Homo sapiens: one gene and its partners. The protein of the gene in region 2 purifies or fractionates together with the protein of the main gene of each other region. This does not show direct contact. Each region holds a gene or a part of one and is shown on either strand. Other genes may lie near its edges.

What was found.
Region 1: the proteins of FGFR1OP2 (region 2) and STRIP2 purify together in Homo sapiens (affinity purification with mass spectrometry; 2 studies listed by BioGRID and IntAct, with this or other methods). This does not show direct contact.
Region 3: the proteins of FGFR1OP2 (region 2) and STK24 purify together in Homo sapiens (affinity purification with mass spectrometry; 4 studies listed by BioGRID and IntAct, with this or other methods). This does not show direct contact.

What each region holds. Positions count from the first base shown.
Region 1 is NC_000007.14:129,479,359-129,486,811, reverse strand, and holds part of STRIP2 (striatin-interacting protein 2), read right to left. Parts: intron 6,312-7,453; coding exon of another isoform or gene 6,231-6,311; exon of another isoform or gene 6,028-6,230; coding exon 5,923-6,027; intron 3,971-5,922; coding exon 3,766-3,970; coding exon of another isoform or gene 3,743-3,765; exon of another isoform or gene 3,181-3,742; intron 1,234-3,180; coding exon 983-1,233; 3' UTR 1-982. UniProt on the Homo sapiens protein: Plays a role in the regulation of cell morphology and cytoskeletal organization. Required in the control of cell shape. Calmodulin-binding scaffolding protein which is the center of the striatin-interacting phosphatase and kinase (STRIPAK) complexes.
Region 2 is NC_000012.12:26,955,240-26,962,692, reverse strand, and holds part of FGFR1OP2 (FGFR1 oncogene partner 2), read right to left. Parts: intron 6,151-7,453; coding exon 6,033-6,150; intron 5,093-6,032; coding exon 4,950-5,092; intron 2,179-4,949; coding exon 2,065-2,178; coding exon of another isoform or gene 2,056-2,064; exon of another isoform or gene 1,942-2,055; intron 1-1,941. UniProt on the Homo sapiens protein: May be involved in wound healing pathway.
Region 3 is NC_000013.11:98,573,915-98,582,242, forward strand, and holds the start of STK24 (serine/threonine-protein kinase 24 isoform b precursor), read right to left. Parts: upstream 3,194-8,328; 5' UTR 2,873-3,193; coding exon 2,831-2,872; intron 1-2,830. UniProt on the Homo sapiens protein: Serine/threonine-protein kinase that acts on both serine and threonine residues and promotes apoptosis in response to stress stimuli and caspase activation.

The DNA of each region.
Region 1 (7,453 bases), on a different chromosome or scaffold from region 2:
CTAGCAATAAACGGGAAAAAAATCATTAATCAACACTGCAGAAAAAGAAAAATGGTAAGCTGTGATGCTTTTACTTTTCAATTAGAAAAATATATTGATCACGACCACAAGTGGACATACCATCTGAATAAATAAAGCCTCCTGTAGTTAACTTGTCATTTAAAAAATGAATTAGATGAAAAGGATAATTTTCTGCAGTATGCTCAGCCATTTGAAGACTGGAGTCATTTAAGAAAAACATGAAACATCCTTAGAGAGGACCTAATTATTTCATATTGGTTGTGGCTCTTTAAAAATGGCAGAGCATTCCATGCCCTATACAGAGTACACAAGGAAATAATTTTCACATTGAATATAGATCTCTTACAGAATGAGGAAAAAAACACTTTACACAACACACTTTTCGATAACATGCAGTATTGAGGGAATAGTAAATCATCATCCTTCACAAAGAAGGTGCAGGTGCTCTAAAATAATCTTAGAGCTAATGATTTCAGAAAGAGGCTTCCAAATTTGAAATTTAAAATGCAAACTTAATTTCAAAGTTGGTTTTTCCAAATCTCTGATAAGTCCTAGGAATCCAGTGTGAGCAAGAAGAAAACTTTCTCCCTATTTTATGACTTGTACCTCCCACTATCTGTGATGAATGCCATGGGTCAAATGCCATAACAAATTTCCTCTTTTAGAGCCAGCAAAGTCTAGCCTGGTTGTAGCCAAGACTAAAGCAGGAAAAGGTCCTACCAAAGAGCTTGTCTAGAATTGATCCACCAAAAGATTTCCAAGGCCAACTGGGCACCCAACTGACCCCAGGGCAAGTTGATCATTTTATTGTGATTCAGGATCCCACCCTTGCACCATCTTTAGGCCCAAGAGCCCCCAGAAGAGCCCTGAACTGGTAACAGCGCCTGTATGGACAGGGTAGGCAGAGCACAGTTTATTGGAGCTGACCTCTATCTATTGATGCTTGTTGACAAGAACTTAGTCAGTGATTCTGGAGCAGCTCCTCCCAACAGATGGGCTGTGAAAACACCTCTCTCTCGAGCCAGAGCTCATATGAATAGTGGAAATCTTCAGGCAGATCCAACCTCTGCCCCAGTACGCTCTGCAAGCAGTTATCCACAGGTGAAAACTCAGAGTCCTGGGGTCTGTCATAGCGACGGCTGTTAAAAGCCTCAATGTTGGCCCTCAAGGTACATTCTTCTGCTTGGAAGTCCCATGGTCTGGCATCGATGTCTGTGTTGGAAAGAGAGGAAGAAGAAGACATACAATGCAAGACACTGCTCCTCTTATCACAGAGCATGGTCTATGGGATTCCAAAAATGGAACTGCTCAGAAATTCTTTTTTTTTTTTTTTTTGTAAAGAGCAATGTATGAAGTTAGTATACAGCATGCTGACACTTAGGTTTAAAAAATACACATATGCCCACATGCATAAGCTTGTATATGCAGAAATTATCTTTGGAAGGGTAGTCTAGAAACTGGTAATAGTGGTTACCTATGAGAAAGGAAATGAGGGCCCAGAGGGAGGTGGACTTCTTCTATTGTATTTCCTTTTTATTATTTCACTTTCTTATTAGCTTTATGTATTACTAGTTATATGTATTATGTTTCCCAAAAGGGTAATTAAATTCCTTTTATGCAGCTTTCCTTAGGGGATGAGTGTCCCATCTGAATGGAATAGCCAGCTTTCAAGGAATAGGAAGGGGCAAGAGGGGTATAACATGGAGAATCAGAATGGACCAATTACCGAAGATTTTCCTGATTCCCTGGAATCTCCTCCAGCACATGATAAATCTATATGTCAGCTTATTTTAAGATGATGAGGTGACGGCTTCAATGAAGGTAAAAACAGAAAACAGATAATCTGTTTCGCTTCTATTCACTTAGACACTTATTTCAGGGCTGAAGATACAAATCTCCCAGATCTCTCATGTTCTACATGCAAGGGTTTATCATAAGGAAGTGTAGTGTGAGTTTGGGCTCATAATGGCAGCAACAACAGATGTGCCATTTGCAGGATAAAACATTTTTGTGTTTTAAAAATTTACAAGAATTTAATAGATAATTGTGCTTTATGTCTTATAGCAGAAGTTGCATCCTGGCTTGTTATGTGCCTATCATATGTTTCCTTTAGTTCTCTAAACCCTTTTTTAGTGAAAAGACAGTCCCTCAGCACCACAAATTATGCAGTTGAGTTTCCCACATTTAGGGGAATAGCAGGGGTCAGCATATCTGGAGTAAAATGGATAAGACTTGTCCTGGGAAAACCATCTTCATGATCATGGTATTTTCCCTGCCAGGTAAGTAAGTAGAGTTATCTGAACTCTTTACTGCATCATCCTTTAAAATTCAAGCAGGTTACAAACACAGCAAAGACAAGTCATTACCAAAAATTCTCAAATACAATTATGGAAATAATGGTCAAATACAAAACAATAAAAAAGCTCTCCAAAATAAATTTTTCCAAACTCTGATCAATCTTACAAGTTCTGGTAGTTTAACCAAATATCTTGCCTTCTGATGTGAGGCAATGTACAGTTCCCAAGATTACCTAGGACATACTGCAGCCAAAAAGGTTTAAATTGAATTCATCAAACCTTTAGATTTAACTTCAAGTTTACAGGTAATACCATAGATAGACGAATAAAGTAGATAACACCACAAAGAAGAAAACAGACAAATCCAGAATGTGAGTATTTTGCAGGACAACTGGCCTAGTTCTTCAATTAGTTAGCATTAATGGTGGAGGTGGGGAGACTGCTTAGAGGCCAAGCACGGTGGCTTACACCTGTAATCCCAGCACTTTGGGAGGCCAGGGCAGGAGGATCCCTTGAGCCCAGGAGTTCAAGACCAGCCTGGGCAACACAGGGAGAGACTCCATCTCTACAAAAAAATTTGAAAAATTAGCCGGGTGTAGTGGTGGTATGCATCTGTAGTCCCAGCTACTTGGCAGCTGGGAGGATCACTTGAGCCCAGGAAGTCGAGGCTGCAGTGAGCCATTATCATGTCACTGCTTTCCAGCCTGGGTGACAGAGCGACCCTCTCAAAAAAACAAACAAACAAAAAACAGAAAACAAAAATAATTAACATATATATAACAACTGGATGCAACCTGTGGTCCTGGATTGGATTCTGACTTGGAAAAATAGCTATGAAGAACATTTTGGGACAACTCGAAAATTGTGAATATGAACTTTATTAGATGAAATGAAAATGTACTGACATGAAAAGGTAGAGATAATGTTAAAAGAGAAAATTACAAAATAGCATACATAACTTGCTTTCATTTTGATAAAATATGCATGTATATGCATAGAAAAAGATCTGGAGGAATATACAATAAGATGTTAATGGTGGCAATTTCTGCATAGTACAAATATGGCATAAATATAATATAGTAAAATGTTTGTTTACTTGTATTTTCTATCTTTTTTTCTAACTGCTTTGTAATAATAAAAAGTTGTTTTAATTTAAATCTTTTGGAGAAAGCTGTCATTTAAAAGAATGTTTTGGAAAGGCAATTAATTATCTCTCAATTTACTTGTTTTATAAAACGGATTTTCATAGTTTACATAGGACAAGGGTACATACTAGAATTTGAGGCATAACCTTAAAGTTTGGTGTATCAGCGCCTGACCTATAATCACATATTTTTTCATCTAAAATATGTAACAATTCATGCCAAAAGAGGAGTGATAAATATTTATTTAGTTTTGTCTAAACCCCAGGAAACTCCAGGAAGTCAAGAGCTTTGGGAAGACTCACCATTCCCGTAAGCCCAGTCATCGTTCATGCGGTGACGCACTTTCTGGTAAATGGCTGACATGGTTTTCATGTTGCTTTTCCTCCATTGGCGCCCCAGGTACTTGGTCTGTAACTTTAGTAGCTTTAGGACATAAAGTTGCAGCATGGCCTGTTTGACCTTGAGGGCCCGCTTTAAGATTGGTGCCGATTTAAACACTACCAGCATCTGTTCATTGAAAGAGGGGTGGGGTAAAGATCTAACGTTTCTTGGAATTTCCAGTTTACAGACAAATTAAACCAAACCTAGCTAGCCTCAGAAATTCCTGGGGAGCTTTCAGGAATCTATGGTCCAGGCTCTACTTAGATTTAATCTTCAAGAATATAGAGGGGGGCTGGGCAAGGTGGCTCATGTCTGTAATCCCAGCACTTTGGGAGGCCGAAGCCAGTGGATCACGTAAGGTCAGGAGTTTGAGACCACCCTGGCCAACATGATGAAACCCCATCTCTACTAAAAATACAAAAATTAGCCAGGCGTGGTGGCATGGGCCTGTAATCCCAGCTACTAAGGAGGCTGAGGCACATGAATTGCTTGAACCCAGGAGGCGGAGGTTGCAGTGAGCTGAGATCATGCCACTGCACTACAGCCTGAGTGACAGAGCAAGACTCCGTCTCAAAAAAAAAAAAAAAAAATATATATATATATATATATATAGAGAGAGAGAGAGAGAGAGAGAACTATTCCATTCATATTTTATTGTTCAAAGTTTTCAATATTCAAAGCATATGGTATAAAGTGAAAAGAAAATTTTGTCAGCCACACATATCATTTCCACTGTCACAGTATTTTTGTTTATTTTCTGGAGATAATTCTATGTATGCATATATTACTTTTATTTTTTTGTTTTGTTTTGTTTTTAAGATGGAGTCTTACTCTGTCGCCCAGGCTGGAGTGCAGTGGTGCAGTCTCGATTCACTGCAACCTCAACCTCCTGGGTTCAAGTGATTCTCCTGCCTCAGCCTCCCCTGAGTAGAGGCGCCCGCCACCACACCCAGCTAATTTTTAGTAGAGATGGGGTTTCATCATGTTGGTCAGGCTGGTCTCAAACTCCTGACCTCAAGTGATCCTCCCACCTTGGCCTTCCGAAGTGCTGGAATTACAGGTGTGGGCCACCACACCCAGCCTACTTTTGTTTTTTAACACAAATGGTAGCCAACTACATATCCTGCCACACTGTTCTATACCTGGTTTTTTTTATTGAATATATCTTGAAAACCATTCCATATCAGTACAGAACTGCCTCATTCTTTTACTTTTTTTAATAGAGATGGGGTCTTATCATGTTGCCCAGGCTGGTCTCAAACTCCTGGGCTCAGGCAATCCTTCTGCCTCAGCCTCCCAAAGTGCTGGGATTACAGGCATGCACCACTGAGCCCGGCTGCTCATTCTTTTTAATGATTGCATAATATTCTATTATAAGGACATACCATCATTTATTTAACCAGTTGGTCCTGCTTAATGAGCATTTAGCTTGTTTCCAGGCTTTCATTATTATTATTATTATTATTATTTTGAGACGGAGTCTCACTCCGTTGCCCACGCTGGAGTGCAGTGGCATGATCTCGGCTCACTGAAACCTCTGCCTCCCAGGTTCAAATGATTCTCCTGCCTCAGCCTCCCGAGTAGCTGGGACTATAGGTGCCTGCCACCTTTCCCAGCTAATTTTTGTATTTTTAGTAGAGATGGAGTTTCACCATGTTGGTCAGGCTGGTCTCGAACTCCTGACCTTGTTATCTGCCCGCCTCGGCTTCCCAAAGTGCTGGGATTACAGGCATGAGCTACGGAGCCCAGACAAGCTTTCATTATTATAAACAATGTTGCAATGATAAACCTTGCACTTGCATCATTTGGGAATGTATGTAATCCAAACAACATTGCTAGCTTCCCTGCTAGAGTTGCCCTGAGGGAGGGTTTGAGATTCAGCCCCCTGAAAAGAAATGGACTGATAAGTAATCATCTAATATAGAATAAGTGCCCAGAATTATGAGGTGCTAAATCTTATGTAGCATTCAGTGTCTATATACGGAGATCACAAACCAGGTAGCACACAAATATTTACTAGTGATCTTTTAAAAATTCAGTCAGATGGACAACTCCATGATGTAAAAAACCACACTCACCATGGTCCGGGAATGTTTCCATTTGGTCAGTTTATTGAGCAGCCTCAGGAGGTTGATGCAGGAAAAGAGGTTCCTCCAGCAGAACTGGCTGTTGTCTCCAGCTTCCTATAGTAGGGAACATCCATCATTATCTTAATACCTACAAGGCTTTAATTCCCACAGAAGCCTGGAAGTCAATGTTGGTCAGTTTAGGTGAGGCCTTCCTGTATGAAATAATACCTCCTCACCTTCCTGTTTCTTAACACACTGAAGTCTCCAAAGCCCATGGTTTAAAAACCCCCTCAGCTGCCAATCCTGGAAGACTCTACCTACAGCATGTGTTGGTTAGAAAGATGATACATGAGCACAGGAACCTGATTCAGGCAAGTTTTCTTGTGTAGCTTATTGCTCTAGGATCAGAAAAGAGATGAGAGAATTTTACCCCCATATACAGGTACTTTGCGCTTATATAAACTATGTTTGTAATTGTTAGGATTAGGTCTAATTCTGGTAGATTTTAAACTATGTTGGATGGATCTGATATCAACTATGGTTGAATTTTTTTTTATCTTATCAACCTTCACCCTCCTTTATCAAACCATATTACAGTTAGATGCTTAATTCTTCAGCATGGAAGGAAAAATGGCAGATGGTTTCTTCTAATCAGATATTTTTCTTATATATTTCTTGATAGTTTGTGAACACCTAACCAGAGACAACAGATGGATGTCAGATTAAAAGCAGGTATCTACTCATAGAAAGATTTTTCAGAAATAAAAATGTGAGTCCTTATGTGAATTTGGGGCTTGCAAATACATACTGGTGTCAGAAGCTATATAACTCAATGAGCACACGTGACAGCCAAACTAACATCTTGGAAATTCCTCACATCTACAATGTGATAGGAGAATGTAGGAGTAGATGACATGTAGAAGTGAGCTGCTGTCTGGTGAATGGAAAATTACCTCCTCCTCCCTCAAATTAATTTGAAGCAAGACAGGCATATATCTAATGTGGAATGAACATCCAAAGTTTTTGAGGGTATTAGGCTTTCCTAATACCTAATACCAAGAGCCAAAAAGTTTCAGGGAAATTTCTTATTTAGAAATATTATTTATAGGTCGGTTGTGGTAGCTCACACTGGTAATCCTAGCACTTTGGGAGGCCGAGGCAGGCAGATGACCTGAGTTCAGGAGTTCGAGACCAGCTTGGCCAACATGGTGAAACTCCATTTCTACTAAAAAAATTAAAAAATTAGCTGGGCATGGTGGCAGGAGCCTGTAATCCCAGCTACTTGGGAGGCTGAGGCAGGAGAATCACTTGAACCCAGGAGGCAGAGGTTGCAGTGAGCCAAGACCACGCCATTGAACTCTAGCCTGGGCAACAAGAGAGAAACTCCATCTCAAAAAAAAAAAAAAAGAAACATTATTTATAAATAATATTCTCCATCATACAGTAAATGTTCAATATTGTCCCAGGAGAACCATCTGTCTGCTTCTAAGGAAAACTTCTATGGGACTTTCTACTGTAGTGCATCAGGTAGTCTGGCTTG
Region 2 (7,453 bases):
GTAGCATAAATTCTTCCAATCTCATTTTCTTATCTTGCACACCTATGATGTGCCAGTACTATGCTAAACAACAGGAATACAAAGACTGTCAAGACATGTCCCCTGATCTGAAGAAGCTTACAGTCTAGTGAAAGAGACAGACAAAAAAGGTTTAAAATCAACAGAAACTCGAGAATAATCATTTTCTCAATGAACAGCTTCTATAGACCATTATTCACAGCAACTGAGAGGTATTTTATCATATTAAGCCTAAGACTTAAATATAAAAGTGAATAACTCCCCAAATAAACAGTCTCTTCAGTAGTTGTGTATATATATATTTGTAAAAAGGATTTAACAGTACTCCAAGAAACCCACGGAACTAATAAGCTGGAAGAAATGACAAGGTAGTATCTTTGGCAAAGCACATTTAATAACCTCTTAACCAACAAAAATGTAGGTCCTTTTCATGGGGAAACCTATACACTGCTAGTACTCAGCAAGAAGGTACTCTAAAAGGCTAATCTGTGCTGTCCAAAACAATGTTAAACTTAATTAAAATCAATACATTTTTAAAAATTAACAATTCAGTCCCTCAAACGCATTAGTGACACTGCAAGTGCTCAACAGCCACATGTGGCTACTGGCTTCCACACTGGACAGCACAGATAAAAAACATTCCAATCATTTCAGAAAGTTCTACTGGATAGTTTTGAATTAGATTATGGTAGGAAGAATGATATTAAGACAAGTATCTGTCATATTCTGCAAGTTAACCATTAAAATTCCTCCCATTGTCAAGGAAGCATAATATGTAAAAGCAGGTTAAGTACAGATCATTGCAGCTGCAAACTGAGTAAGGGTAATGAGTAAAAACTTTGAATACCAACAGCATCCTCAATTTATGATTTGGTCAGTCCTATGGCACTGACCTAAGTTAAAAAACTACACAGAAAGCAAGCATTTCTTTTTTTTTAGACAGAGTCTCGCTCTTGTTGGCCAGGCTGGAGTGCAATGGCACGACCTCGGCTCACTGCAACCTCCCACTCCCAGGTTCAAACAATTCTCTTGCTTTAGCCTCCCGAGCAGCTGGGATTACAGGCACCCGCTATCACGCCTGGCTAACTTTTTGTATTTTTAGTAGAGATGGGGTTTCACCATGTTGGCCAGGCTGGTCTCCAATTCCTGACGTCAGGTGATCCACCCACCTCAGCCTCCCAATTACAGGCATGAGCCACCATGCCTAGCTGAAGCAAGCATTTCTTTGCCTTTAAAATAGAAGGAAAAAAACTACTGATTTTTTCAGTACCAAGTCTAACAAAGCTCATCATGAGAAAAAACCCAATACTTCAAATAGGGCAGCACTTTTATAAAAGGTCATGGTAATGGTTCACTTATTTAATTATAAAATCTTCAGAGAAGTATCACAGATTTTTTAACAAGCACAAGAGGCAAGATCTGTGCTTTCAAAACTGTCTGGAAGACAAGAAGTGTCACCAACATAACCCTTGAACTGTCTTGAAATGTCTTTCATTTCTAACTCCCTGTCTAGGTTTATTCCTCCTTTATTCAATAAAGACCTGCCACAAGTGAGTTAAAAAAAAATTAAGACACAATGGAGAGAGCACTACTATACTTAATCCTAACATCTAAACAAAGGCATTTTAATTTCATTTGCAAAATCAAAGGACTACAAACTATCCACAATCTGAATTAAAACATTTAATACTTTGACCTTATGAAATCAGTTTAAAATTAATGCCAAGAAAATATCTTTGATGTCCAGAAAGGAAATGACTGTTTCACAGCAACAACTAACAAGAGCAAATAAATAAAGCGTTGGACTGAATAACCTATAAAACCTGCAAATATCTAACAGGCTGTACATGATACAATACACAGAAAATTAATGAGAGATTTAAAGTTTCTACACTGAACAGCATGGCTATTAAAGACACAACATTCTTTTAATAAATTTCATTTATTTGCTGATCTAATCTGGGAGGGAAATTCAATGTAAAAGCACTTTTAAAATGGACCCCCCTTCCATCCACACCCCAAAAGTTGACTGTTTATTTAGTGTACATTCTGATTTGCTTCCAAGTGCCTTCTCTCCAGTCCATGTTGAGGTGCTTCAAGGATGTGTCGAGATGCATCAAGGAAGAATCCTTCGGACTTGTTACGATGTACCATGTCAATCTGTAGTATAGAGTCATTATAATGTTAATACGGATATCATCCGTAATTTAAAAACTGAATGAGTGTTAGTTCATGCGTGTTAGCCAACTGTTTGAAATGTTTGCTTTTTTAAGATTTCCAAAAAGGCATCTGTTCAAAAATAACATGAAAATTAGTATTTGGGTAAAAATGAGCTCTCAAACTTTCTACTGATTTTTTAAGTATGTGCTCAAAAACTTCTAGTTAAGGGCAAAGTTCTGTATTATAACAGTCTCAAAAGGATCTCTTACTCCAATCCAAAATGCTGTTATGTGTAACTCTGTTTCTTAGCTCTAAATGTGTTGTAAAATTACTTTTGTGTTTAGGCATATCAGAGCACTAGTACCTAAACACACCCTACAATACCATACTTTTTGTGCTTTTATTATACAAGTTTCTCTGCCCACCCACCCACTTCTGCTTGTTTACCTACCTGCCCATAATTAATTCAAGGCTGGACTGAGACAGACTTTCTTCCCTTCCTTGTTACCTTTCCAGATTTTCCTTATGACAGTTAATATTGTTCCCTCTAGCGTTCCAGTAACAATTCATCTACTTTGGGATTCATCACGCCCTACCTTATAGTAGATTGTTATGTTTGTGTCTGTATCTCCCACTATACTGCAAGCTTGTACATTCATCTTATTATTTCCCATAACTAACCCAGTGCCAGTATTAATGTTTGTTTAATTAAGTCGAAGTGTCTCCTTTTTGGGAAAAATCAAAATCACAAACATTAATATGTATTAGTGAAAATTAATAACAAATAACTGAATAGTCATTTTATGGGAGGCAAGGATCATCTGAACTTAGATGAAGAATTCAATCTACATAATAAAAAAGGATGGCTTACAGCTATCTTAGGAAATGTTTAACCTTACTAATTAATAAACCAGCTCTGGTGAATAGTAAAATCTAATATATTTTAGGAAACATTTGCTTCTGTCATAGTTGCTACCAGATGGGACCTGCAAGCTATAGTTATCCTATTCTAAGCACTTTTTTTGTAATGGTATTCTTCGCTTTAGATCTTTAACATTTTATTTTTAGGTTATAAAACATACAAACCTTTTAGAAATTCTCAAGATTATATTTATCTTACAAATAATATTAAGTCAACTCCTTTTAGTGCCTTTAAAAAGTCTTAGTTACTATAGTTATTATTATACCTTTAAATTTAAATGATTTTAGAATGGTCTCATTAACAATAGTTAAATTTTGTATTCAAAAGATCACCACTTAAACATCCCTGGATTGCCATTTGATTAGGAGATGAATAGCATAATTAGAAAACATTAAACACAAATTTTTAATTTAATTTATTATTTTACTGGTTGACACAAGAGGTACCTATCATTAGGTTTTCTAATATAATAAAGGCATATAAAGAGCTATTTGATAGGTATTTAATTCTAATAGAATTAATTACTAATAAGTTAAAAACACGTACAAGCACCAAAATGGAAGAAGTATTTTAAAGAATCTAAAATGTGTTTCAATAATAGATAAATATGAAAATATGTCCTTTCCTATTTCTGTTGTAACAAATGGGGAAAAGAAGGCTCATAATCACTGTTTCTTAAATAATATTGGTAATAATAATAGTCAGCTCACCATTATCTAATACAGGTAACAGTCTAGTTTCCACAATCTAGTTTATTATTTTTATTTCATATCAGCAACTAAAACTCAGTTTAAAATAAATATGTGAGAAAGGATTATTCTACTTGTCTTCATAGCAGTTGCCATAAAATATGCCATAAAATATGGGGACATACCAAAGGGAATAGACACAGGGATGACAAAGGGATGAACAGCAGGTAAAACACTAATTTCTAACTACTTCAGCTTTGTTTCTAAAAAATGATGTCAACTGGTATACAATACTGGGGCAAGGGAGCAAAATTTTACTATGTTGGTTCTTCTCCTGAACCCCATGTTTTTTCCATTATAATAAACAAGATCATTTATAGTCTGGATGAATTAGCCTTATTCAGAAAACAGTCTTAAGAAAAATCTACATTAAACTGCTTTCAGATTTTAAAAAAGGTTTCCATTATTTTTTGTTTTTGCAAGAGAAGTCAATACACAAATTTATTAGAAAAAATGTTTCTTAAAAAAATTTCTGTTTTTTAAGAGACAGGGTCTCACTCGGTTGTCTAGATGGGAGTGCAATGGCATGATCGTAGCTCAATGTAACCTCAAACTCCTGAGCTGAAGTGGTCTATCCACCTCAGCCTCCTGAGAAGCTAGGACTGCAGGCATGTGCTACCACACCCGGCTAATTTTTTTACTTTTTGAAGAGATGGAGTCATGCTATGTTGCCCAGGCTGGTCTTGAACTTCTGGCCTCAAGTGATCCTCCTGCCTTGGCCTCCCAAAGTGCTGGGATTATAGGCGTAAGCCACCATGCCCAGCCCTTTAAGAAATATTTCTTAAAAGTATATAGCCCTACAAAAATAATGTTGAAGAGACCAGACTTACCTTTATATCCAAAATAAAATTTATTTTTCAACGTACAAATTAAAGTTTCTAAGAAACAGTGAGAGTTTATAAATCAAACAGAAAATGATATATAACAAGAAATGGAAAAATAAGAAAAAGGAGAAAATGTCAATTAAAAAGATGAAACATTCAACATCATGTTAAAATGCCATTACTAGATACCTGTGATTTTTTTCAAAAAAAATCTGAACACAGAATAATCAATCGTCTCTCTTTTCCATTTCAGGTCACATTTATAGAATGGATTACCTTGGAGTGCTGCTCTTTTAACTTCATTATTATACCCGGATCATCTTTTTTGCTAGCCATTAGCAATCTAAACATTTGTTCTCGGTACTTGCTCATTATAAGTTCCAAGGCCGACTGATGTTCTTCCAGAGATGTACGTAATTCTATCAAGAATAATATTGTATTTTATTCCAACTTGAGTTAAAAGTACACAAAATATTCTCTTCCACTAAGCAACTTATGAACGGGACATTTTAAAAAGAAAACACAATGCACAAAAATCTAGCCATATAACAATAAGAGACACCAAATGAAGTCCCGTATTAGTTTTTTGAATATTTTAAGCTTGTTTCTTGAGAATCATTTCAACAAAGATGTACTAAACAGCAATTAATATCGGCCAAGGCTCCCTCTATATTAAGGGCCACAGACCTCAAGAGTCTAGTAGAGAAAACAAGCATGTGGTAGGTGGCAGAGTGGAGTGTTAAGTCAAATAGATTTAAGAGATGTCTATGGGAAGAAACTGGTGGAAGCTTTGTAGAAGTACAGTGTGAGTTCCCTCAGTTGAAAAGTGAAGGAATGGACCTTCTAAGCAGGTAGGCATGAAAACAGATGACGTGTTTAGGAAGTGATTGGTGTTGGCAAGAGCAAAGAGTTCACAGTGAAGAAAGCTGTGGGAAGAAGATTTAAAAAAAAGGCTGGGAAATGATTTTTAGGGACCCTGTAAAAGGTAATAAGTATATAATGAAAGTTCTTAGGCAAAAGAATTACATGATCAGACTGATTTTTGAAATATCAATCTGATGGTTATGTTGAAGACAGATTGGAAGGGGGAAGAGAGACTGGAATCAGGGAGATCAGTTTGGACATTTCAGGCAAGAGACTGAGCATCTAATCTGGGGGCCAATGCAGTGGGACTGCAGAGAATGAAGCTGGGTTATTTCATAGCTAACAACAGCAGTGCTAACTGGATATTAAGGGTGAGAATCTAAGAGGATGTCAACCAGGCAGATGTTCATATGTGGGACAGGATAAAGAGCAATAAATACGATTTAGGAATATAGACTAGAAATGGGATTAATGTCAAAAAGTAACGTATCTTACCTTTGTTTTCTTGTTGCAACTCTCTGATTTGTCTGTTTTCTTGCTGGATTCCCATAACTAACGTGGACCGTGGCCGATGTCTCGCGACTTCATTAAGTTCTTGAATTTCTTCCTGATACTAATGGGGGAGAAAAACATGTGGGATGAAAATACCTGCAAATATATATATATATATATATATGATATATAAATATAAATATATCTGAAATATACATATAAAAAATCTGATAAGAGCTTAGTATCCAGAATATATAAAGAACACTTACAACTCAACAATAAAATGAAAATAACCCCATTTTTAAAAGTGGCAAAGGATTTGAATAAACATTTATCTAAAGAAGATATACAAATGGCCAATAAGCACATGAAAAGATACTTAATTAACCTAACTAGTCATTAGGAGAATGCAATTCAATATATCCCACGAGGATGACTGTAATGAAAAAGACAATAACAATTGTTGGAGAGGATGTGAAGAAACTGCAACCTTCCATACATTGTTGATGGAATGTAAAATGATGTAGTTCAGGGGTGTCCAATCTTTTGGCTTCCCTGGGCACATCGGAAGAAGAATTATCACGCTGCACATAAAATACACTAATGCTAACGATAGCTGATGAGCTTTTTTTTAAAAAAAAAAAATCTCATAATGTTTTAAGAAAGTTTGTGAATTTGTGCTGGGCCGCAATCAAAGCCATCCTGGGCCATATGCAGCCAGCAAGTCACAGGTCGGACAAGCTTGGCATAGCTGCTTTGGGAAACAATGTGGCAGATCCTCAAAAAATTTTAACAGAGTTATTATATGACCCATCCATTCTACTTCTACATATATACCCAAGAAAACTGAAAACATATGTCCACACAGAAACTTGTACACAAATATTCATAGCAGCATATTCTTACCAGCCAAAAAAGTAAAATAATCCAAATGCCTATCAGCTGATGAATGGATAAGCACAATGTGCTGTATCCTTACAATGCAATATTATTTGGCAATAAACAGGAATGAAGTACTGATACATGCTATAACATAGATGAACCTTAAAAACATTATGTTAAGAAGCCAATCACAAAAAGCCGCATATTTTATCATTCCATTTATATGAAATGTCCAGAATAGGCAAATTCAAAGAGATAGAAATATTAGTGGTTGCCAGAGACTGAGGAAAGGGGAAACTAGAGAGAGACCACTGATGGATGTAAGGTTTTGTGGTGATGAAAATGTTCTGGAATCAGGTAGTGGTTATACTGCATAACCTGCAAATGTGTACTAAAATCCAATGAACTGTACCCTTCAAAAAAGTAAATTTTATGGTATGTGAATATCTTAATAGAACATGTACAAAAGAAATGCAAAAAGATTTTCCATTAAGAAAATGAGAATCTTATTTTAAAATTGCACTTATTTATTTTCAAGGCAT
Region 3 (8,328 bases), on a different chromosome or scaffold from region 2:
TTTGCAAAACATTGAAAAATGGTGTTTATACTAACATGGTTGTTATTTTTCAAGCATCCTTGCCTAGGCCACCTGAATTCACTCTGCTTTATTTTTTTATTTTATTTTTTTTTTTGAGACGGAGTCTGCCTCTGTCGCCCAGGCTGGGGTGCAACGGCACAATCTCAGCTCAACGCAACCTCCGCCTCCCGGGTTCAAGTGATTCTCCTGCCTCAGCCTCCCGAGTAGCTGGGATTACAGGCGTGTGCCACCACGCCCAGCTAATTTTTTGGATTTTTAGTAGAAACAGGGTTTCACCATGTTAGCCAGGATGGTCTCGATCTCCTGACCTCATGATCCGCCCACTTCGGCCTCTCAAACTGCTGAGATTACAGACTCTGCTGTCTTTCTAAGCCAACTCCTTATAAGCCCTGGTCAGGAGACAAGAAAAAGGGAGGGCTATGAGGCCTATCAGAGCAAGCCATAGAAGAGATACGGACTTCTCTCCTCCCATTTAGCAGACAACAGTCGAAAGCAGGTGTGTTTTTAATTGAATCTTCAGCAACAACTCTTAGGGAAGCCTCCCAGGGCAGTAGCAACTGCTAATTTGAAGTAGAAAATAAATGTGCTGTTGTTTTTCTTTTGTGGGGTGGGGGAGGAGAAAAGAATGTTCTTCCCCAAATGATACACTGTTACCATACAGTCTGTAGATGTACTTAGGTACAGGAATGACTGGCAGAAGCCAACTTACCTACCTCTAAAACTGTAAAACTGTAACAGCTGAAAATCTGATCATCTTTTCCACTGAGAAACACTTAAGATCTTTCATACTGAGAAAACAAAATAAAAACAGTTCCCATGTAACACAACCTAACAGATACATAATAGTTGAGAGGCAAAGTTATTAAGGAAATGTATCTTCTTTTCCCAAGGTTTAAGAATTCTGACCCACTCAAAAAAAAAAGTGAGGATAAAAATGAAAAGGTGAGATACTAGATATCACCTGGTAACCATCTGATACTGACTTCACGGCACCAGCCAAAGGGGCTTTAGTACCTTTTCAAACTGATTCGCTATCCACAAAGGCCAATTAACCTAGTAAGTGAGGCATTTGTGCTAGATTCCAACCTGATGAACACGGTATAAATATCAACCTAAAGGAAATATTGATAAAACTTTTTTTTTAAATCATTACAAGAGTCCTTTCTTGCTCGACTAGTAAGAAATTACTTTTTTCACCCAGTTCACTCTGACCTACACACCTCTAAATTCATACCAAAGCGGCTTTAGAAAATACCAAGAAACCACATCTGATTGTTACCCAGCAGTCAGCAGAAGTTTAGGTTTTGAATGCATGCTAAATTCAACGCTCCTTAAATGAGAGTCGACAAAAGAATATTCTTCAAGCATCTTCCCAGTCACTCTTAAGATAATAACTTAACTGTTGCTGCTTAAATGTATATTTATTTACTGCTTAAACATATATACACACATATATATACTGCTTATATATACACACACACACACACACACACATATACACACACACACACTTGGACTAAAATTCTAGCTGCCATTAAAGTGGTAACTTTGAGTTCCTATTTTTCCAGAATTCAAACCTGAACAGTGAAATCCAGTTTTCTTTTTACGGTTTCAAAAAAAGAAGGGAGAGGGATGATCTCACTGGAAGAGGCGAGCAGACCCCAGAGGCAGTCCCAGGTCTGGGCTCTGTGCTTCTCAGCCCTCAAGACACAGGGAAGGAGCCTGTTGGTACCTGTAAATCAACCAGTAATCTACTTGGATGCTTTTGGTTTTCTTCAAACACTTAACGTTCACTCAGCTAAACTGGCAGAGCAAACTTTCATGACATATCCTAACTGCATCCTAAGATTTCCATCCTAAGCATTTTGCCACCATTTCTGCGCCTACAAAGTTTACAAGAGTTAGCCAAGGACGGTAGCTTTGTTTTTCAAAGGGCTAAAAGCAACGACAACGAAAACAACAACAACAAAAAACCTTTAACTTATACATGTAAATTTGAAATTCAACTCCTCTCCCACTCCCCAAAAAGTCACTGGTAGGCCAAGGTGTCACCAAGTACCGAAAGAGAGGTTTACTGGGCGAAGAATTCCTGTAAATGCAACCAAGTCTCAAAGTGAAAGTCCAGGGTCCCGGGGCCGGGCCCGGGACCCTGGTGCGCGGCTGTCCGAGGGATTCCTCCTTCCAGAAGGTTTGCAACTCGCACTTTCCCCCGGTCCGCAGGTGCACGGGGGCTCCGGGCAAAGCCACTGCAAGTGGAACTCGCGGTTACCTTCCTCCACTCCACCCTGCCTACTCCGCTCGGGCCCGGACGAGTCCAGGCGCGCTCCCCGTCCCCGCCCTGCCCAGGTCTCCCGCCCGCCTGCCCGGGGGTGGGGGACGAGCCTGGGGGACGCGTCCTGGGGCCCTCCGCCAACCCGGCCACCACGCAGGGCCCCGGGACCCGGCGGGGGCCTCCAAGGGCATCACTCCACCTCACTTCTCCCGGGGACAGGGCCACCCAGGGCCTGCAGCTCCGGAAGAGTGTTGGGGCGAGGGGAGCGCGGAGGACTAGGCGCCCGCACCCCCACATCCGGACCCAGGCCGCGGTTCCTACGGCTCCTGCACGCACACGCCGGAGACCTCGGCCGCCGGAGCCGGCAGGGACGCCCAGGGACTCGGACTCGGACCCCCGGCCGAGCCGGGCGCGCGGGGAGCCAGGCTCCGGCGCGACCCCGGCCGGCTGAGCGTAGGGGGACGCCGTGTGGATACCGCCAAGTTGCTGCTTCCGCCCCGGTCGCGCATCCCGGCCCCGCGGCCCGCGCCCGCCTACCTGCATGCCGGGCAGGCCCGACTGCACCGGGGAGTGAGCCATGGCGCTCAGGACGGCCACTTCCTGGGACGGGACGGCCGGGCCGCGACGATCCGCGCGGGGCGGCGAGGCCCGCGGGCCGCGCGCAGCCCTCGGGCGGCGGGGCCGGCCGGAGCCCGAGGCCACCCCAGCCCTGGCGGGTCCCGGCCGGGCGGCGGGGGCTCAGCGGCGGGTGGCGGGCCGCGTCTCCATGCACGGCGCCAGGGAGGAGCTGCTGGGGGCGCAGGGCCTCGCGCGCACTGCCGCCGCCGCCGCTGCTGCCGCTACTGCTGGGCTGGAGCCGGGCGGCCTGGGCCCGCGCGCGCTGGCCGCTGGAGCCGGAGTGGGCGCGCACAGCCCGCCGAGCCCGCGAGCGCCGAGCGCGTCCCGCCCCGGCCCGGCCCCCGCGCCCGCCCCCACGGCCCGGCCGGGGACCCCGCCCCGCGCTTCCGGGAGGGGGAGGGGAGAGGCCGGTGGCCGCGCGGGAGCCCTAGGCCGCAGCCGCCGCCTGTCGGCCCGGCCCGGGTCCCAGCTGCTCCTGCGGCGCTCCCACGCCCCCGCGGGCGGGCGGCGGGGCCGGGAGGGGGCCTCGGCTGGGGCGGGCGCCGGGAGGGACCGAGTCGGGGCCGGAGGCTGGCCGCGTGCCCACCGGGCCGGCGCCGGGGCGAGCCTGGGCCGCGGCCCCCTCTTCCCGCCAGCCAGCCCACCCCGCCCCGGCGGCCTCTGGGAAAACGCGTCCCGGGCGAGCCCCTGAGGGCAGGATCGGAGTCGGGGGCACCTGGGGAAGGAGAGCGCCCCGTGGGGCCTCGGCCGGTGGCCTGTGCCAAAAGGCCGGGCAGAGCTGCTTCGGTGTCTGGGTGAAGTTTCCAGCCAACCCAAGAAGGAAACCGAAAGGGAAGAGGCCGAGAGAGAGGTTAATTCCTAGTGCTTTGGTTACCGAAAACAGCCCGGCTGGGACTGCTGGGCTGGGAACTTAGCTAAGCAGTGCGGAGGCTGAACCCCACCATCTCTGGGATCCGCAGCAAATCAGAAGCCCCCACCCACGATAAGGGGAAAATGGGGCGCAGAGGGCAGGGAGGAAGGGAAGAGAATGGAAGGAAAGCGCGTCTGGACTTTGAACTGCAGCCCTCTCCCTCTTTCCCTTGCCTCGGAAGCTCCAGGCCCACTCAGCACCAGTTCTGTCTCCTCTTTTCAGCCGCCTTCTCTCTAGCTACTGAGGGGAAAAGTCAGGATGAAGCGGGTCCCTCGGCCTCCAGAAGGTGTTTTATTACAGTCGCAAACAGGTAGAGCGGCAGCCACCCCAGTGATGACTCCCTGCTCCTTAGATTGTAGGGACGCTGGCACCTCACTCATGCTCCTAAGTGGCCATTTTGCGCCCTGGCTGGGCGAGTTAGGCAGACAAAATGAGCCCCCAAAAGTTTAAAGGCCTCCACCAAAGGAGTATTTCTTTTCTGAGGTGTCATTGTATTCCATCCACGAACTTCAGTTCCCCCGGGTGCTCTGGATCTGACATGGAGTAGGATGCTAACATCTAATCCCTTCTTTCCCTTTGGAAAGATGCATGTTTTTTCTCGGAGTCCTAGGGAATACCTTAGAATACTTTCATGGTTGTCATTGGTACACCCATCCCTTGAGGAGCCCTGCCACCCGTAAGTAGGACTGCAAGGAAATACAAAATTAAGAGAAGTATGAACCCTGATACCCAGGAACTTAAAATCAGGTGTATAAATTTTGTACACCTAAAAAATATGGTACCTAAAGAGGCGAACAGCAAAACAAGCAAGAATGTGAATCTTTAAAATGTTTCTATTCTTCAGCGCAGCCCAGGAATTCTACCTAAAGTAACATATCCTAAGGCAACAACCAAGAAGTGTGGAAGAATGCATGTAAGAAGACACAGTGATGTTTAGAATCCTGGGGAAACGGAACAGCCAAAAAGTCTCACAGAGGTTAAGTAAATAATAGCATTTTCATACGAGTACTATGTAGTCATTTAAAATTATGTCTTTCAGTACCTAGTAATGGGGAAAATGTATTCATTATATATTATTAAAGAAAATACAGGGTACAAAACACTGTATATAGACTGATCTCAAATGACTATATATATATTAATATATATGGCCTACAGACACACAGTCATGTATTGCTTAACAATGGGTATACATTCTGAGAAATGTGTTCTTAGTTGATTTTGTCACGTGAGCATCATAGAGTGTACTTCCAGAAACCTAGATGGCATAGCCTACTACACACCTAGGCTATATGGTATGACGTATTGCACCTGGACCACAAACCTGAACAGCATGTGACTGAACTCAATACTGGAGGCAACTATAACACAATGGTAAATATTTGTGGATCTAAACATGTCTAAGCATAGAAAAGGGACAGTAAAAATATTCTTCTAGGGTCAGCAGAGCCAGGGCAATAACCTGGCACCAAGATAAAGAGCAAGAAACTAGATGAATGGATGGAAATGTCTGGATGCTGATCTGAGACATTACCATGGTAAATGCTCAGAAATCACTTTGCAGTGGGCTAATTGCCAGCAAATAAGTCACAGCAGATGGGGGACAAAGGCCCATAGTACCCTGGGTATAAAAAAATAACCGGAATCCTAGTTTGTGTCCTGAGGCTAGTGAGGCTCAAAACAGGGAGATTCCGGCAGGATGTAACTTCTCTGGACACAGTGACTTGCATCCATTAGCTGGTCTGTTGCCCCGAACCCTGTTTATCTTCTCTCCACACTGACCATTGTTTCATCCTTTGACAATGTTCATACTGTTGAGCACCATTCTTATCGAAAGAAGGGAAGGAAGCAACATGGGAGTTACTGGTTCTCCTTGGCCCTATGCAGGTAGTACCGAGTATTCCCCATGGCAGAAGTAGGTCTCCACCTTATTTGTTTTTGCACAACAGAGATGATGCACAGGGCCTGAGCCCGGGATCAGATCCGGTGCAATTGCCTATTATGTTCATTCATTCACACCTTTTTTGAATACCAACTATTAATACATGTCAGATACCCAGTTCAGTACTGGGCATATAAACATTAGATCCTCAGGTGCCTCTTAACCCATCCTAGGGACCTGGTCTCCCAGAATCCTAACTTTGGATGAATACAATACCATAATTGATTAAACTTAGAGTGGCAATAGCTATCATTTCCACCAAGGAAAGAAAAGGATCATCCTCTCACCCTCTTCCTCTTGTCACTTTCCCTCCACCCCCAATGTATGATTACAACAGGTTATACACTACCGTAAGTCCAGAAGGAGATTATGAGAGTCTCCATAGAGATGATGCATTTTATGGTCTCCATGGAGATACTAACCCATTGAGTTATTTACTTTATCCATTGAATTATTTTTCTTCCCTGGTCCTCTTTGTCTTTTGTGTTCACTTAAGGACATCAGTCTGGCAATGAATTATGATCTGAAATATATTCTGGACCACAAAGAATATTTCCATACCCCTATATGGAGCCCCTCCAAATATAAAGCCCCTATGTATTTGCTGCCCCTAAGCTAGTTTGTACGCACTCTCAGCAGAGCTCAGAGAGGAACAGAAAACAAGAATTCCACAATCAATCCCTTCACTTTTCTTTCTAAGTTGAAAAGATAAACACCCCCAAATGCTGCTTTATAAAGAACAGCTAGACAAGTAGAGCATTAGCAATTTAAATTCAGAGATTAAAGAAAGGGACTTACATGGTGAACTTTAAAGGGAGAAATAGGAGTAGCTTGGATAAGTAACTAACAGAAGGCTTAGACAAATTTCTACACATGTTCAGTAGGTGAAGACAAATTATCAAGATCAGTTTAAAGAAGAATGTCTAGTCATTGTTGGATGACACAATAGCAAGAAAAGGTATGCCAAAGCCCCAGAAAAATATCCCAGCTACATTGAGGAATGGTACCAATAAGGTTTCATTCTGTGCGTGGAGAGCTCAGAGGGCAGGCTCTTGCAGGGATATCACCCTAAGTAGGTTTTCAGTTGCACCCTGCCTTAGTTTGCTAGGGCTGCCGTAACAAAGAACCACCAACTGGATGGCCAAAACGACAGAAATTTATTTCCTCACCATTCTGGAGGCTGGAAGTCCAAGATGAAGGTGTCAGCAAGATTGGTTTCTTCCGAGGCCTCTCTCGGGCTTGTAGCGGCCAGCTTCTCCCTCTGTGTTCTCGTGGTCTTCACTGTGTGTTCCTGTGTCCTAATTTCCTGTTTTTATTATTTATTTATTTATTTATTTATTTATTTATTTATTTATTTTGAGATGGAGTCTCGCTCTGTTGCCCAGGTTGGAGTGCAGTGGTGAGATCTCGGCTCCCTGCAACCGCTGTCTCCCAGGTTCAAGCATTTTTCTTGCCTCAGCCTCCCTGGTAGCTGGGACTACAGGCGAGCGCCACCACACCCGGCTAATTTTTGTATTTTTAGTAGAGACGGGGTTTCACCATGTTGGCCAGGCTGGTCTCGAACTCCTGGCCTCAAGTGATCTGCCCACTTTGGCCTCCCAGAGTGTGTGAGGCACCACGCCTGGCCCTAATTCTTTGTTTTTAGAAAGATACCGGAGTCGTACTGGATTAAGGCTCATCCCAATTACTTCATTTTTGCTTAGTTACCTTATTAAAGTTCCTATCTCCAAATACAGCCACATTCTAAGGTACTAGGAATTAGGACTTCAGCATAGGAATTTTGGAGGGACACAAGTCAGCCCGTAACACACCTCCTTTTCTGCAAATGTGTGTCTGGTCAGCCCCCCTTTAGCTGGGTCTTCCAGGCTCAGCTTCAGGAATGAGAGCTTCCTTCTCCCTTGCCAAGGCCTGTGGACCTTTCTGCGCACTTCACATTGCACACTTCTGCTAATAAGCATTGCTTCATATTTCCTTGGGTGTAGGCCTTAAACTTTATCTTGCATAGAAACCAGAACACTAGTCTCCAATCACTGTACAACTGAGAGCAGAAACAGAGAATGCATAGGTGTTTGCTTGATAAAATATTCCTGATTAAAAGAAATCATCTGGAACACGTGACAAAAATCTGCCAGAAAAGGGTTCAGAATATTTTGCAGGCCTATCCATACTCAGTTCAGGCAAAAGATTTAAACAAGATCCATCTTTCTCCCCCACTGCCTCCTCCCCTGTGTTGGGAGGTGCAATTTACCAGGGGAGTTGGGGGTTGAGCCTCCAAGGGGGCTCTTTGTTGCACATGCTCTCTGCTGCAGTTCTGGGGGCTCACACCAGGGAACATCAGGCTGTTTAGAAGGACTCACTTGAACGAGCTCACTAGAAAAATTCTCATGTGCAATTTTGCTTGGCAAAGAACCAATGAACAGGGCTTGTCACCCTCTAAACAGTGGCCACTTGACCCTGCCAATCTGCTCATAAAGACTTCAGTATGCAAAGATTCATCAAGAGCTGTGTGTGTAGATTTCCCTTCCTCTTGAAGCTGGATTTGCTTTCAGACATACCCAGAAAGGG